Linked DNA regions of Homo sapiens. The protein of the gene in region 1 purifies or fractionates together with the protein of each later gene. This does not show direct contact. Each region holds a gene or a part of one and is shown in the gene's direction. Other genes may lie near its edges.

Region 1 (3,500 bases):
ACTGCACCCGGCCCCACTTATTGACAACAGTGTTTTTAATCTCAATAGGAAGAAAAACTTACTGAGCAGTATCATAATCTGAATGGTCTTAGGAGGATGCATGAAACAGGTTTTGTTTTCTGTCTCCCTTCTCGCTTTTTTTGGCCATATTTAAACAAGTCATCTCTAGCCAAATGAGTGAAGTGTATTTAGGTTCAGGAAAGAATAGTTAGGAATCCTTTACATTTGTATAGTTTAATTTAAAGCACTTTTTTGTTTTTCTTTTTAAAATTTAATCCCAGCAACCTTCAAGTAACATGCAGAAGAGCTGGGACCAGGACTCCTGACTCCCAGTCTGCTGTTTTTTCAGGTGCATCATGCTTATCGTCAGCACCGTAGCAGACCTTTACTGAATGTCTGCCAGCAAGATTCTGCTTGCTGAAGGAATGACTCCAGTATTCTGAGAGTTAGGGATTGAACATCATGGGTAGAAACTGGAAAGCTACTCTCTTCATCAGTAGAATGCTAACTCGTCATGTAGTGCCACTAAATGTAATATTAAATTAACTTCTTAGAAAACCTCTTAATTTTTTTGTTAGAACAGAGCTTAGTTACTGTTGGGGGAAAGGCTTATGGGGTGCCTGTATAAACTGGCCATAAAAATATGGGACAATAAATTGTGCAAAGCCACAAGAGGCCTCTTGTGGGAGGAGGAAAGCCTTATCACCATTATGTTCCCATGCTCTCAGCAAGACTTGCTCTCTTATCCATAAACACTGTGTTCAAGGAGAAAGACACTCCTTTGAAGCACTGGAATGTGGCCAGACATGCAGGCTCCTAGTTAAGCTCGCTCCCACCAGCTACTCTCCGATAAGTTAAAGATATGCTGTCTAAGCACAAAGGAGATTCATTTAAACTGCCACTGCTGTAGATTACGTGTATGACGCACTGCCTTCCTTTCAGCACTGCCTGCCTTTCACCGTTTCGTCCTGAATGTCTGCTTCTTAGATCTAAGTGATTGTACTCAGTAAATAGTGTGGAGACCAGAACTCTGAGCCTTTTGCAGCCTCCATTTTGCAATTGGCCCCCTGGCCCCCACTCTTTATGCACTCTTAACCTCTCTCTTCTCATTCCTTCGTCGCCACCAGACTTTGGGTACCCTACGGGTGGTGTTGAGGCTGGTCCCCAACAGTTACCACCCTTAGTTGGTTCTACATGTCTGTACCTTCAGGCAGTTCCACTCTCAGGAAACGAGAGTAATAGATAATTGAGCAGATTTCCTAGCTCTCAAGGTGGCCAACCTGAATAGAATCCTGGTTCTGCCACTAAGGTCACTTACATGACCCTTAGCAAGTTACTTACATCTTATGCCTCATATTCCTCAACTATAAAATGGGGTTAATACTAATTTCTACTCAAGGTTATTGAAAGAATTTAGTGAATTTTATATATAAAAAGCCTAGAACAGTTTCTGGCACAATGTATGTTAGCTATTTATCAAGGAAATGCAAAAATAAAACAAATTAGGGGATATTAGTAGTTTAAAAAATAAATTTTTTTTTTTTTTTGAGACGAAGGTCTTGCTCTGTCGCCTGGGCTAGAATGCAGTGGCACAATCTCGCTCACTGCAACTTCCACCTCCTGGGTTCAAGCGATTTTCATGCCTCAGCCTCCCAGGTAGCTGGGGTTACAAGCGCCTGCCACCACGTCTGGTTGATTTTTGTATTTTTAGTAGAGACAAGGTTTCACAAAGTTGCCAGGCTGGTCACAAACTCCTGACCTCAGGTGATCTCCTGGCCTTGGCCTCCCAAGGTGTTGGGATTACAGGTGTGAGCCACTGCACCTGGCCAAAAATAAATTTCTTTTTGTTCTGTTTTGTTTTGTTTTTTGAGATGGAGTCCCGCTCTGTCAGCAGGCTGGAGTGCAGTGACACTATCTCGGCTCACTGCAACCTCCTAATCATATCTCCTCTTATTTATATAATGCTTTAGCATTTGTCTAGGACATTAGTTGTATTCTCTCATTGAACCATAGGAAGTCCTCAAAGAGAATGAGGAAAGAGGCCTGTGGTATTGAAGGGACATGATGGTTATAAACAAATAATTTGTCACTATAAGATTTAGAAAATGGGCTGGGCACAGTGACCCATGCCTATAATCCTAGCACTTTGGGAGGCTGAGGCAGGTGGATTGCCTGAGCTCAGGAGTTTGAGACCAGCCTAGGCAATATGGCAAAACCCCATCTCTAATGAAAACACAAAAAATCAGCTGGGTATGGTGGCGCGGACCTGCAGTTCCAGCTGTTGGGGAGGCTGAGGCACAGAATCACTTGAACCTGGGAGGCAGAGGTTGCAGTGAGCCGAGGTCACATCACTGCACTCCAGCTGCCTGAGCGACAAAGCAAGACTCTGTTTTTTGTTTGTTTTTAAATTTAGAAGATGATAGCTAACTGAAAACTTCTATATTCACACAAAACTTTATTTTTTTGTTTTGAGGTAGGGTCTTGCTCTGTACCCCAGGCTGGAGTGCAGTGGCATGATCACGGCTCACTGCAGCCTCAACCTCCTTGGGCTCAGATGATCCTCCCACCTCATCCTACTGGGTAGCTGGGACCACAGGCGTGTGCCACTACACCTGACTAATTTTTTCAATTTTTGTAGAGATAGGGTCTTCTGTGTTGTCAAGGCTGGTCTTGAATTCCTGGGATCAAGCAATCCTCCCGCCTCAGCTTGTCAAAGTGCTGGGATTACAGGCATGAGCCACCACACTTGGCCCCAAAACTTTATTTAAAGGAACAATTTAATGTGTATTTATTGTCTCTCCCACCCACCTAATATGGCTGGTGCTTTAAAGAACCTCAGTACATGATTGATGGGTAGATGAAAATATTTAAGAGTAAACTTTATTCTGCGGAATGCTGGCATTTCTTAAAGGAAAAATTCACTCAGATGATTGCATTAGATATTTTAGCAAAACATATCCTAATGTAGTCACACTTTTTTTTTTCTTCAGGATTATATGCGTCAGGCAGGAGAAGTGACTTATGCAGATGCTCACAAGGGACGCAAAAATGAAGGGGTGATTGAATTTGTATCTTATTCTGATATGAAAAGAGCTTTGGAAAAGTTGGATGGAACTGAAGTCAATGGGAGAAAAATCAGATTAGTTGAAGACAAGCCAGGTTCCAGACGACGCCGGTCCTACTCCAGAAGCCGGAGTCATTCAAGGTACTGTTGATGTCTTTTGTGTGTTGGAGCTCATCATAAATTCATTAGTGAGCACATAGATAATTTATTTACATTTTCCTGTTGAGTTCTTAATAACATGATTCCATCTGGTTCAATAACTTAGAATTTTGAACTGAACATTTATTTGTAAAACTCTTGAACTCTTAGGTCATGAGTACAAATAGAAGTCCCTTCTCTTAGAAATCAGAGGCCTTGCTCACGCCTGTAATCCCAGCACTTTGGGAGGCCAAGGTGGGCGCATCACAAGGTCAGGAGTTCAAGACCAGCCTGACCA
Region 2 (4,086 bases), about 28 Mb from region 1:
ATCCCTGAGCTACCAGCCTGGGGAAAGAGGACATGAGTAAAGCTGTAACCATACCGTGTTACCCATAACAGGCGGTGAGGAGAGTGGGTTTTGGTTGGCACTGTTTGAGCTGCAGTATCAAGTCATGGCAGAGCTAGTGGACAGCTGACCTGGGGGTGGGGGTGAGGAGCAATGGTGGCTTCTGAATTTGAGCCCGTCTGAGCTGGGCAGTTACTGGCAGCTCAGTGTGTGAACCTGCAACCACTCAGGCCTCTGCTGCCCTTCCCTCTTCCTGCCTCACCGTTCCCTGCCCCACGCAGGCTTCCCCACCATCCTCACCCGTGGTCCTGTACTAGTCCTGGCAAAGGTTCCGGTAACTGCAGCAACAGATACCTCCTGCCCCTCCTGCACAGCTGTGGTCGATCGCAGGACAGCCGCAGGTGATGAAAAACCGTGAACCCAGGACGGGCAGGGCGTGAGACCGCCTGCGGGAGGATCAGCGATGTCAAGACGTTACAAACGCACGAACCCCCTCGCCGTCTCCCTGGCGTTTGTGAGGTCCTGTCCAAGCTCCTTCACACGTAGATCACCGGGCCTCGCTCCCCCGACTCCTTCCGTGGGCCTGAACCTTGAGGTACTTAGGCCTCCCCACGCTGGAGGGGCTCTGTAGGGACGTCGAGGCCACGTTTCCAGTCATCCCTCCACCCGTCTCTCCCCAGGGGCTGAGTGTTGAAGGCAAGACTTTGCAGGAGTCTGGCGTTAATACGCATCCCCAAAGTCTGGAGTCGATAAGGACTGAAGACACGACGCCGACGGCGGCCGGGGGACACCGGGCATGCGCGTCTCATCCAGGGGGAGGCCGAGCGGAGCCTCTGACCCTGCCCCGCGCCCAGGGTTCAGCAGTGGGGGTCGTCCCGCCCCAGATCCCACCGAGATGGCCCCCCTTGACCCACAGGCCTTTCGAGACGCGAGCTTCCGCGATCCGGGGTCTCTGTGCGAACGTGGGCATCTTGGAAGAGTCCCAGCCCCGCTCGGGGCGCACAGGCAGGCGCTCTCAGCACGGCACCCGCGCCTCCGCTAGGGACAGACATGCTTCCGGGTCGGCCGGCACCGCGGAGTCCCCTGGGTAACGAGCCCGCCCCACCCGCGCCAGGTTCCGGCGTCGGCGTTAGGCGCGTTGCTGACGGGCAGGTTATGTAGCCAATTGCGGCTAGGCGGCGTCGCGCTGGTCGCGGGCCGAACCAATGGCACGCGACGGGGCGGGGCGGTGGCGGCCGTGGAGCTTCGCGAGGAGCCGCCCTGAGGGAAGAAGCCGAAGGGGAGTCGGCGGCACAAAATGGCGGCGGCGGCGGCGGCGGCTGGTGCTGCAGGGTCGGCAGCTCCCGCGGCAGCGGCCGGCGCCCCGGGATCTGGGGGCGCACCCTCAGGGTCGCAGGGGGTGCTGATCGGGGACAGGCTGTACTCCGGGGTGCTCATCACCTTGGAGAACTGCCTCCTGCCTGACGACAAGCTCCGTTTCACGCCGTCCATGTCGAGCGGCCTCGACACCGACACAGAGACCGACCTCCGCGTGGTGGGCTGCGAGCTCATCCAGGCGGCCGGTATCCTGCTCCGCCTGCCGCAGGTGAGGGCGCGGCCGCGAGCCTCCGGCCCAGGTAACCGCTGGGGCGGCAGCCGCCTTTGTTGGCGGCGAGTCGGGCCCGCACCGCCCCCGCCTAGACCCCGACCCCAGCCCCTGCCCCGACCCCAGCCTCGGCGCCATTCCCTAGCCAGCCCATGCCCCTGACCCGGGGCCTCCCCGCCCGCCAGTGCGCTGGATCCCGAGACGGCGGGACGCGAAGAGCCTTTGTGGACGTGGGAAGCGTTTCAGTGTTTGGTTCTGCGTGGGGAGTCCCACGTTACTCGATGACTTTCGGCCGCGAAGGCTTTGAATGGTGCGTTTGAAAATACGGAAACTTTCTTCTACTCTAGGTGGCCATGGCTACCGGGCAGGTGTTGTTCCAGCGGTTCTTTTATACCAAGTCCTTCGTGAAGCACTCCATGGAGGTAAGGCTTCCTCCTGCACTTCATTCCCAGCGAAGTATGTTGAGGGTAAAACGGTTTGTTACTTTGCCCGGTTACTAAGGGAGTGAGTACTTGCCCCCCAGTCTGAGCTCTGTGCCGGAGGGTTCTGTTTCTTGACTTTTTTTTTCCCCTGGGTGCACCTCCCTTTTGGTCTGAATAGCCCTCAAGCCTTTGGCGGCCGTCAGGACGCCGTGGCTGGGGACAAACATGGGCGTGTTGCAATGCTTCCGCTTCAGCATGTGTCAATGGCCTGTGTCCACCTGGCTTCCAAGATAGAAGAGGCCCCAAGACGCATACGGGACGTCATCAATGTGTTTCACCGCCTTCGACAGCTGAGAGACAAAAAGTGAGTCAGTCAGAGCTGTCTAGTCTATCATAGATGCCTATTTTCTTTATTTCTGATTAAGTTACAGTAAGGCTTGTATAACACAATACAGGCCTGAGGCTCTAAACCTGTGGGATATTCATGAGCGCAGTCTCAAGCTCCACCAACAGAGCCTGCTCAGAGGCATCAGTAGATGCGGTTTAGTAAGGGCAGGGGCTCCAGTGAGGACAGTGCGCTGTGGCGGGTCGCGCTGGGGCTGGCTTCCTGCTTTACCCATGTCAGTGCACGGCCCTGCTGCTGCTTCTGTCCCACAAGTTTCTGAGTGCTCTGGAGCAGGGAATCTTAATCTCAGCACTATTGACATTCAGGCTGGATAATCTTTTTTTTCCTCCTGAGACAGGTTTCCTGTTGTCCAGGGCAGAGTGCGGTGGTATGATCATGGCTCACTACAGCCTCAACCTCCTAGGCTCAAGAGTTTCTCCTGCCTCAGCCTCCTGAGTAGCTGGGACTATAGGAGCACGCCAACCATGCCAGCTAATTTTTATTTTTTATTTGGTAAAGATGGGGTCATGCTGTGTTGCCCAGGCTGGTCTCAAATTCCTGGGCTCCAAGGATTTGCTGGCCTTAGCCTCCCAAAGCACTGGGATTACAGATTTCAGCCACCGCATCTGGCTGGGTAATCTTTAGTTGTAGGGGATTCTCCTGTGTGCTGCAGGATTCAGCAACATCCCTGGTCTCGACTCACTGGATGACAGGAGTACCCCACCTTAGATGTGACAGCCAGAAATTCTCTCATACCAGATGTGGGAGCTCACACCTGTCATCTCAGCACTTGGGAGACTGAAAAAGGAGGTTTGCTTGAGGCCAGGAGATTGAGGCTGCAGTGAGCTGTGATGTCACCACTGCACTCCAGCCTGGACAACAGGGTGAGGCCCTGTTTCCAAAAAAAACGAAAGTCTGTTGATGTTGCTTCATGGCCCTGGAATAGTAAAATTTCTCCAGCAGAGAACCGCTGCCTCTGACCTTAGCCCAGGGTTTATGCACCTGAAGTTAATTGAAGTCCTTTAGAAAACACAGCCTCTGGCCGGGCTGGCCTGTAATCCCAGCACGTTGGGAGGCCTAGGCAGGTGGATCACCTAAGGTCAGGAGTTCGAGACCAGCCTAACCAATATGGTGAAACCCTGTCCCTATTAAGAACACAAAAATTGGCCAGGTGCAGTGGCTCACGCCTGTAATCCCAGCACTTTGGGAGGCCGAGGCGGGTGGATCACGAGGTCAGGAGATCGAGACCATCCTGGCTAACACGGTGAAACCCCGTCTACTAAAAATACAAAAAAGTTAGCCAGGCGTGGTGGCGGGTGCCTGTGGTCCCAGCTACTTGGGAGGCTGAGGCAGGAGAATGGCGTGAACCCGGGAGGTGGAGCTTGCAGTGAGCTGAGATCGGGCCACTGCACTCCAGCCTGGGCGACAGAGCAAGACTCCGTCTCAAAAAAAAATAAAAAAAAAATTAGCCGGGTGTGGTTGCGGGTGCCTGTAATCCCAGCTATTCGGGAGGGTGAGGCAGGAGAATCGCTGGAACCGGGGAGTTAGAGGTGCAGTGAGCTGAGATTGTGCCATTGCACTCCAGCCTGGGCAACAAAAGTGAAACTCTGTCTCAAAAAAAAAAAAAAAAAAAAAAAAAACAGCCTTGCCGAGCGCAGTGGCTCACGCCTATAGTC
Region 3 (3,500 bases), on another chromosome or scaffold:
TTCTAAATTTACCAGAGACAAATTCCTATATTCTCTTCCTCTGATAATGTCTTTATTTCTCTCTTCATTTCTGAAGGGTAGTTTCATGGGATATAGAATTTGCAACCAACAGTTTTTTTGTTTGTTGGTTTGGTTTTTTTGTTTGTTTCTTTGGTTGGTTTTTTTTAAGCACTTGAAAATGTTGTGCCACTTCCTTCTGGCCTCCATGGCATTTGAGTTGGCATGTCCCTACAGGCATTCTGCCATTTTTGGTCTTTGTTTTTAGTTTTGAAAGTTTAATCAGTGTTGCTTTCTTTTGTTATACTTTGAGGTTTGCTCAGCTTCTTGAATCTGTAAGTTTATATCTTTCACTAAATGTGGGAAGCGTCAGGAATTAGTTATTTGCATGCTTTTGCAGCTCTGGTCTCCTGTGGGACTCAGATAACATAAATGCGGGGTCTTTTGTTATTGTCCCACAGGTCCGTGCAGCTCTGTTCATTTGTTTTCAGGTTATTTTCTCTCTATTGTTTAGACTGGGTGAATTCTGTTGATACAGGTTTCAGCTTCTCTGATTCTCTCCTCTGTCGTCTCCACTTTTACTCAATAGAGCCCATCTAGATAGATTTTTTTTTAATTTCTGTTACTGTATTTTATATTTCTGTAATTTCCATTTGATTCTTCTTCAGTTTCTTTGCTGACGTTTTCAGTTCTTTGTTTGTTGCCATAGGATTTGTAGTTGCTTGTTGAAGCATATTTATGCTGACTGTTATAAGTGATGAGTCAGATGGTTCCAACATCTGCCTATGTAATTTTTTTATTTTTGCAGGCAGTCCTCCTATTTGGGTTTAGTCTGTAGGTCCTGGTCTACTTTGTGGGCTGTGATTCCAATGGCAATTTAATTTCAGAGCCTTCATGGTGTTATTTTGGTCTGTTTGGCTTATATGTATCACTGGGATTCTCCCACCAGTCCCTGCTGTTGCCCACCTGAGGGAACAGGGGAGCTGCCCCAGGCTGGGCCACCTGCTGCAGCTAGGTGGGTGGGGAGTGGTGGTTGTCTTGGTGTGTGGAGCTGGTTTTCTTGTTATGGGGAAGATTTCCTTTGATCTGGGGGGACTGAGTCTGCCTGGGTTGCCTTCTATTGCTACGTTGGGAGTTGGGAAACTCTGGGCCTGGTCAACTTCCTATTGGATGAGGTCCAGGGAGACACCTGGCCACTATGCATTCCCTAGTCCTAGAGTCCCTCAGCAGCCTTTTTCTTTCCACCTTTCAGAATTCTCCTTTGATCATCTCCTGTCTATTATTTCTTAGGAGGGTATAATGTGTTATCTTCTCTAGACCAGAAATCCTTAATGGTGGTTTCAGGTTGTAACTGTGCTAAAGGGAGAATTGGCGTATTTTTGATGTTGAGTCTTTCTTTTCAAATGAGGACATATCATTATTCAGTAGATAATATTTACAACACCTACTTCCTTGGGTTGAAGAATGTGGTTAAGGCAAGGAAAGTACTTAACACAGTGCCTGGTGTGGAGAGCACCGATGAGTGTTGGTGGTGATGCTATTCCTTTTGTCCTTTGGTAGCATATTAAAGCTTTTCTTCTTTTTTAAAAAAATAAAGTTCTGGTGCATTTCTTGTTAGGTTTATTCCTATTTTATCCTTTTTTGCTTTTATTACAAATAGGAGCTTCCTATCTATTATAACTTCTACCTGGTTCTTTGGCCCTTATGTGAAAATGTTTTAATAGCCTTCTAAACATTGCTCTCCCAAATGAGTTTTAACTTGCCTATTTCTTTTATTTTCCTTTTTTTGAGACAGGGTCTCACTCTGTCACCCAGGCTGGAGTTCAGTGATGCAATTATGGCTCACTGCAACGTCTGCCTCCCGGGCCCCCAAAGTGCTGGGTTTACAGGCGTGAGCCACTGCACCCAGCCTTACTTGTCTGTTTCTTTTAAGAGTGGGAACTATAATTGAGCCCAGAGCTCCAAAAACAAATGAAGGAATGAATGAGTGAATAAGCTCTTCCCATGGGTTTGGTGTGGTTTGGGGCTCTACTCTTAATCTAAATGCTATGTTTTATATAACCTAAAATTTCCCCTAGGTGTGTTACACGATTGTGTTGTGTTGAACTTACATTGAGACTCCTTTTCACATGTGCTGGTATCAGCGTGGAGCTTTTCTATTCATTCCTTGAACTATTCGTTTGGGGGACACACATAGACCTCTGTGTCTTTCATAAAGAGTGTCCATTGGCCAGGTGCAGTGGCTCATGGCTGTAATCCCAGCACTTTGGGAGGCTGAGGAGGGCAGATCACGAGGTCAGGAGTTCGAGACCAGCCTGGCCAATTGGTGAAATCCCATCTTTACTAAAAATACAAAAATTAGCCAGGCTTGGTGGCGGGTGCCTATAATCCCAGCTACTCGGGAGACTGAGGCAGTAGAATTGCTTGAACCCGGGAGGCGGAGGTTGCAGTGAGCTGAGATCATGCCACTGCACTCCAGCTTGGGTGACAGAGTGAGACTCTGTCTCCAAAAATAAAAAACAAAAACAAAAGAGTGTCCATTGTGTATACTGGAAAAATTGAGATTGGGATTTTGATGTGAAGTGCGGAAATGTGGATTGGGTCCATTTAGTTTACCTAAACAGATGATGAAATACTAACTGTTTTACAAAGCATTCCCTAGTGCAAAGTTTTGCCTGTGTGTGTAGTGACAGGAACAGTGAGAATGAGGCTTGGAACGCAGAGCACACTGTGGGCCTGTGGTAGGTGGGGCCAGCAGCACATGCATACCTGGCTCACAGAGCAGCCTTTGGGTGTTCTTTTCCCAGAGGAGCTCTACGGTGACTTTGAAGACTTGGAAACAGGGGACGTGCACAAGGGAAAATCAGGCCCCAATACTCAGGTATGACTTTGTCGTAGCTGGCTGTTCTTGGTCATTGTGTTCTGAGAGAGGCCCACATTGAGAAATGCAAATCTTACTTGTGATGTGTGAAGATTGCAGACTGGATAGATAGATTCCTTCCTAAAGGGTGGGGATGTGGGGACCAAAGAGAAGCTTTCTTGTTTACTTGTTAAGTTTTGGATGACAGTTACTACCGTTTCTTGCCATAGTCATTTGCCAAGTCCACTGTGATTTTTCACTCACGGAAGTCTTAGCTTCTTGGACTTACATTCAACCATTGGCATCATTCTCCTTTTTTTAAATTTAAGTGTCATTTAAAAGAATGAAGTCCCTGTTCTCCCTAGTATTTCTTTAGAACAGGGTCTGGGAGCATCTGGGTGAGGGACACGTCTGTTATTTTTATTCTAGTTTGTGTTCCCAGCCAGCTTAAGGATTAGCAGCTAATTGTAATGCAGATGTAACCATTTCCTGTAGCAGTACCATGTTATTCAGAGACAAAGGTTGTGTTGTGTTTTCTTTTGTTTTATTGATAATGATAACAGATTTTTGCTAAGATTCTTGTTTAAATAGAACTTTAAAAAAGCTAATGTTTAAAGAAAAGACCTTCATAAACATACACAAA
Region 4 (3,500 bases), on another chromosome or scaffold:
CTCAGTCTCTCTGGTGGGAGAAGATGAGCGGAAGATGCTGAAGGAGATTGTAAAAGCTGCCAAGGCCCCTGTGAAGGCCAGGATACTTCCCCAAGGTGAGCAGGCACCCCTGTGGCAGTGCAGAATGGCTCGGTGGGCGGGGCAAGGACAGAGTGTAATGGCTGAGAGCAGGTACTTTGCAGTTCAGAGCCAGATTTGAATTCCAGCCCTGCTGCTTCCTTGCCGAGTGACCATGTGCAGGTTTCACCTCACCTCTCTGAGCTTGCCTCCTGTGTGTAGAAGGGAATTATGACAGAATTGTAAACACAGTGCCCCATTTAGGTGGAAATTGAGAAGAGAAGGTTGCTTGGGGCAAAATTCTCACTAAACTCCTCTTTCCCTTACTGTTGGTGGTGGGGAAGAGAGAGATCAGTACTCATTCTTTTTGGGTCCTTTCATTGATTTTGTTCCTCTGATCTGTGGGGGTCTTATAAAGCACATCCTCTTTAAAGTCTTTTTTTGTTTTGTTTTGTTCTTGAATTCCTAGGCTCAAGCAATCCACCCACCTTCTGCCTCCCAAAGTGCCGGGATTAACAGTAATGAGCCACCATGCCCAGCCTTAAAAATTTTTAAAGTTATAAAAATAATACATATTTAGCCTGAGCATGGTAGCTCTTGCCTATAACCCAGCACTTTGGGAGGCCAAGGCAGGAGGATTGCTAGAGGCCAGGAGTTCAAGACCAACCTGAGCAATATAGTGAGCTGCCTGTCTCTAAAAAAAAAAAATTAGCTGGGCATGGTGGTGTGTGCCTGTAGTCCCAGCTATTCAGAAGGCTGAGGCAGGAGATCTCTTAAATCCAGGAGGTTGAGGCTGCAGTGAGCTATGATTGTGCCACTGCACTGCAGCCTGGGCAAAAGTGCAAGACCCTGTCTCTAAAAAATGAAATGAAAAGTACGTATTTATTGTTGGAAATTAGTAAATAAAAAAAAATGTAATTCTGTGTCAAAGAGCTCACCACTGGTAGCATTTAGGTGTATGTCTTTTCAAACCATTTTTCCTTTCTTAAATGTCCCTTTTATTTTTTTCATTTTCATTGTCTTCATTTAATCAGCGACTAGTTATTGAGTCCTGCTGTGGGCCTAGTGCTATTGATTCTGTTCTAGGTGCTGGGGATACAGCAGGGAACAAAGCAGAGCTGTGGTTCTGGGAGAAAGAGACAATAAATAAGCTAACAGTAGATGTGATTGAGAACAGCAGGAGGAGACTGCCTCATTAAGCTGTTAAGGAAAGGCCTCTGCACAGCTGGCATTGGAGCTGAGTCCTGGGTGATCGGAATGAGGCAGCCATGAGAGGTCTGAGGGCAAAGTGCTGAGCTGAGAGAACAAGGGTGGAGGCTGTGAGGTAGGAACGAGCTTAGTGTGTGAGAACAAGAGAAAGGTCAGGAGGCTCAGGCGTGGTGAGCAGGGACACACAGAAGATCAGAGCGGTAGGCAGGGGCCACTCTGAGTCTGGGGGATATGAAGCAGAGAAGGCACACATTACAGACACCATTTCCTATGTCAGTAAATGCACAGCTAAATTATTTTCATCAGTTACACAGTATTAGTAGTCACCCTTATTTTATTTTATTTAATTTATTTTTGAGATGGAGTCTTGCTCTGTTGCCAGGCTGGAGTGCAGTGGTGCGATCTCGGCCCATTGCAACCTCTGCGTCCCGGGTTCAAGTGATCCTCCTGCCTCAGCCTCCCAAGTAGCTGGGACTACAGGTGCATGCCACCACGCCCAGCTAATTTTTATATTTTTAGTACAGGTGGGGTTTCACCATGTTGTCCAGGATGGTCTCGATCTCTTGACCTCGTGATCCACCCGCCTTGGCCTCCCAAAGTGCTGGGATTACAGGCTTGAGCCACTGCCTTATTTTGTTTAAGATAAGGTCTTGCTTTGTTGCCCAGGCTGGGGTACAGGGGTGCGATCATAGCTTACTGTTGCCTCGAACTCCTGGGTTCAAGCAGTTCTTCTCCTCAGCCTCCTGAGTAGGTGGGACTACAGGTGTGTGCCACCATGATGGCTAATTTTTTTTTTTTTTTTAGATGGAGTCTCGCTCTTTTGCCCAGGCTGGAGTGTAGTGGTGTCATCTTGGCTTACTGCAGCCTCCGCCTCGTGGGTTCAAGCAGTTCTCCTGCCTCAGCCTTCTGAGTAGTAGCTGGGATTACAGGCGTGTGCCCCCACACCCAGCTGATTTTTGTATTTTTAATAGAGACGGGGTTTCACAGCATTGGCCAAGCTGGTCTCAAACTCCTGACCTCAGGTGATCCACCTGCCTTGGCCTCCCAAAGCGTGGGATTACAGGCATGAGCCACTGTGCCTGGCTTTTTTTTTTTTTTTTTTTTTTTTTGTAGAGACAGAGTCTGGCCACGTTGCCCAGGCTGGCCTCAAATTCCTGGGCTCAAGCAATCCTCCCACCTCAATCTCCCAGAGTGCCGGGTTACAGGTGTGAGCCACCATGCCTGGCCTACCCTTATTTGTAAATCCTTTTTATTTTCTCCCATTGAGATGTCATCCTCAAATTCCGGGACAAGATTGAGAAAATGGAGAAAGATGTGTATGCAGTTCTGCAGCTAGAGGCGGAGGAAAAAGAGATGCAGCAGTCAGAAGCCCAGGTGAGGCTGCGAGGCGGGATCTTGTTCACAAGGCTGCTCAGTAAGCAAGCTGCTGCATCCCTGCTGGTGCTGCCCTTCTGAAATGTTTCTCCCATCAGAGCCCCAGGCATTTGCAGCCCGTGGCTTCCTGTGTTAGTAGATACGGGTTTCACGGCAGGCATCCTTTTGTTATCTCTACAGATCAATACAGCAAAGCGGCTCCTGGAGAAGGGGAAGGAGGCAGTGGTCCAAGAGCCCGAGAGGAGCTGGTTCCAGACCAAAGAAGAGAGGAAGAAGGAGAAAAGTAAGTCAGGGAGGTTCCGCAGAAATCTAAATACAGAATTACCCCACAGGACTCAGCAGTTCCATTTCCTAGTTCTATACTGTAAAGCAGCGGTCCCCAACCTTTCGGCACCAAGGACCAGTATCGTGGAAGACAATGTTTCCACATTTGGGGTGTGGGGGTTGCATTAGATTCTCATAAGGAGTGCACACCCTAGATCCCTCGCATGCGCACTTCACAATAGGGTTAGTGCTCTTATGAGAATCTAATGCTGCTGCTGATCTGACAGGAGGCCAAGCACAGGTGGCAATGCTTGGTTGCCCAATGCTCACGTCCTGCTGTGCAGCCTGGTTCCTAATACGCCATGGACTGGAACCGGTATGCAGCCTGGGGTTGGGGACCACTGTTGTAAAGGATGTAAACAGGGACTCAAACAGATACTTAGATGCCAGTGCTCTTTGAATTACTGTTCATAATAGCAAAAAGGTGGAAACAAACTATGTTCATCAACAAGTGAATGGATAAACAAAATTTGGGGTGTGTGTTTATATACACACAATGGAATATTATTCAGCCATGAAGTTCTGATACATGCCAT

Evidence for each region. Proteins that work in one complex are often made in the same cells at the same time.
Region 2: the proteins of SRSF4 (region 1) and CCNL2 purify together in Homo sapiens (pull-down; one study listed by IntAct). This does not show direct contact.
Region 3: the proteins of SRSF4 (region 1) and BMS1 purify together in Homo sapiens (affinity purification with mass spectrometry; one large-scale study listed by BioGRID and IntAct). This does not show direct contact.
Region 4: the proteins of SRSF4 (region 1) and DDX27 purify together in Homo sapiens (affinity purification with mass spectrometry; one large-scale study listed by BioGRID and IntAct). This does not show direct contact.

What each region holds. Positions count from the first base shown.
Region 1 is NC_000001.11:29,154,401-29,157,900, reverse strand, and holds part of SRSF4 (serine/arginine-rich splicing factor 4), read left to right. Parts: intron 1-2,990; coding exon 2,991-3,205; intron 3,206-3,500. UniProt on the Homo sapiens protein: Plays a role in alternative splice site selection during pre-mRNA splicing. Represses the splicing of MAPT/Tau exon 10.
Region 2 is NC_000001.11:1,396,536-1,400,621, reverse strand, and holds the start of CCNL2 (cyclin-L2), read left to right. Parts: upstream 1-1,286; 5' UTR 1,287-1,315; coding exon 1,316-1,603; intron 1,604-1,950; coding exon 1,951-2,025; intron 2,026-2,203; coding exon of another isoform or gene 2,204-2,279; coding exon 2,280-2,389; intron 2,390-4,086. UniProt on the Homo sapiens protein: Involved in pre-mRNA splicing. May induce cell death, possibly by acting on the transcription and RNA processing of apoptosis-related factors.
Region 3 is NC_000010.11:42,813,795-42,817,294, forward strand, and holds part of BMS1 (ribosome biogenesis protein BMS1 homolog), read left to right. Parts: intron 1-2,804; coding exon 2,805-2,878; intron 2,879-3,500. UniProt on the Homo sapiens protein: GTPase required for the synthesis of 40S ribosomal subunits and for processing of pre-ribosomal RNA (pre-rRNA) at sites A0, A1, and A2.
Region 4 is NC_000020.11:49,236,416-49,239,915, forward strand, and holds part of DDX27 (probable ATP-dependent RNA helicase DDX27), read left to right. Parts: coding exon 1-95; intron 96-2,533; coding exon 2,534-2,640; intron 2,641-2,820; coding exon 2,821-2,923; intron 2,924-3,500. UniProt on the Homo sapiens protein: Probable ATP-dependent RNA helicase. Component of the nucleolar ribosomal RNA (rRNA) processing machinery that regulates 3' end formation of ribosomal 47S rRNA.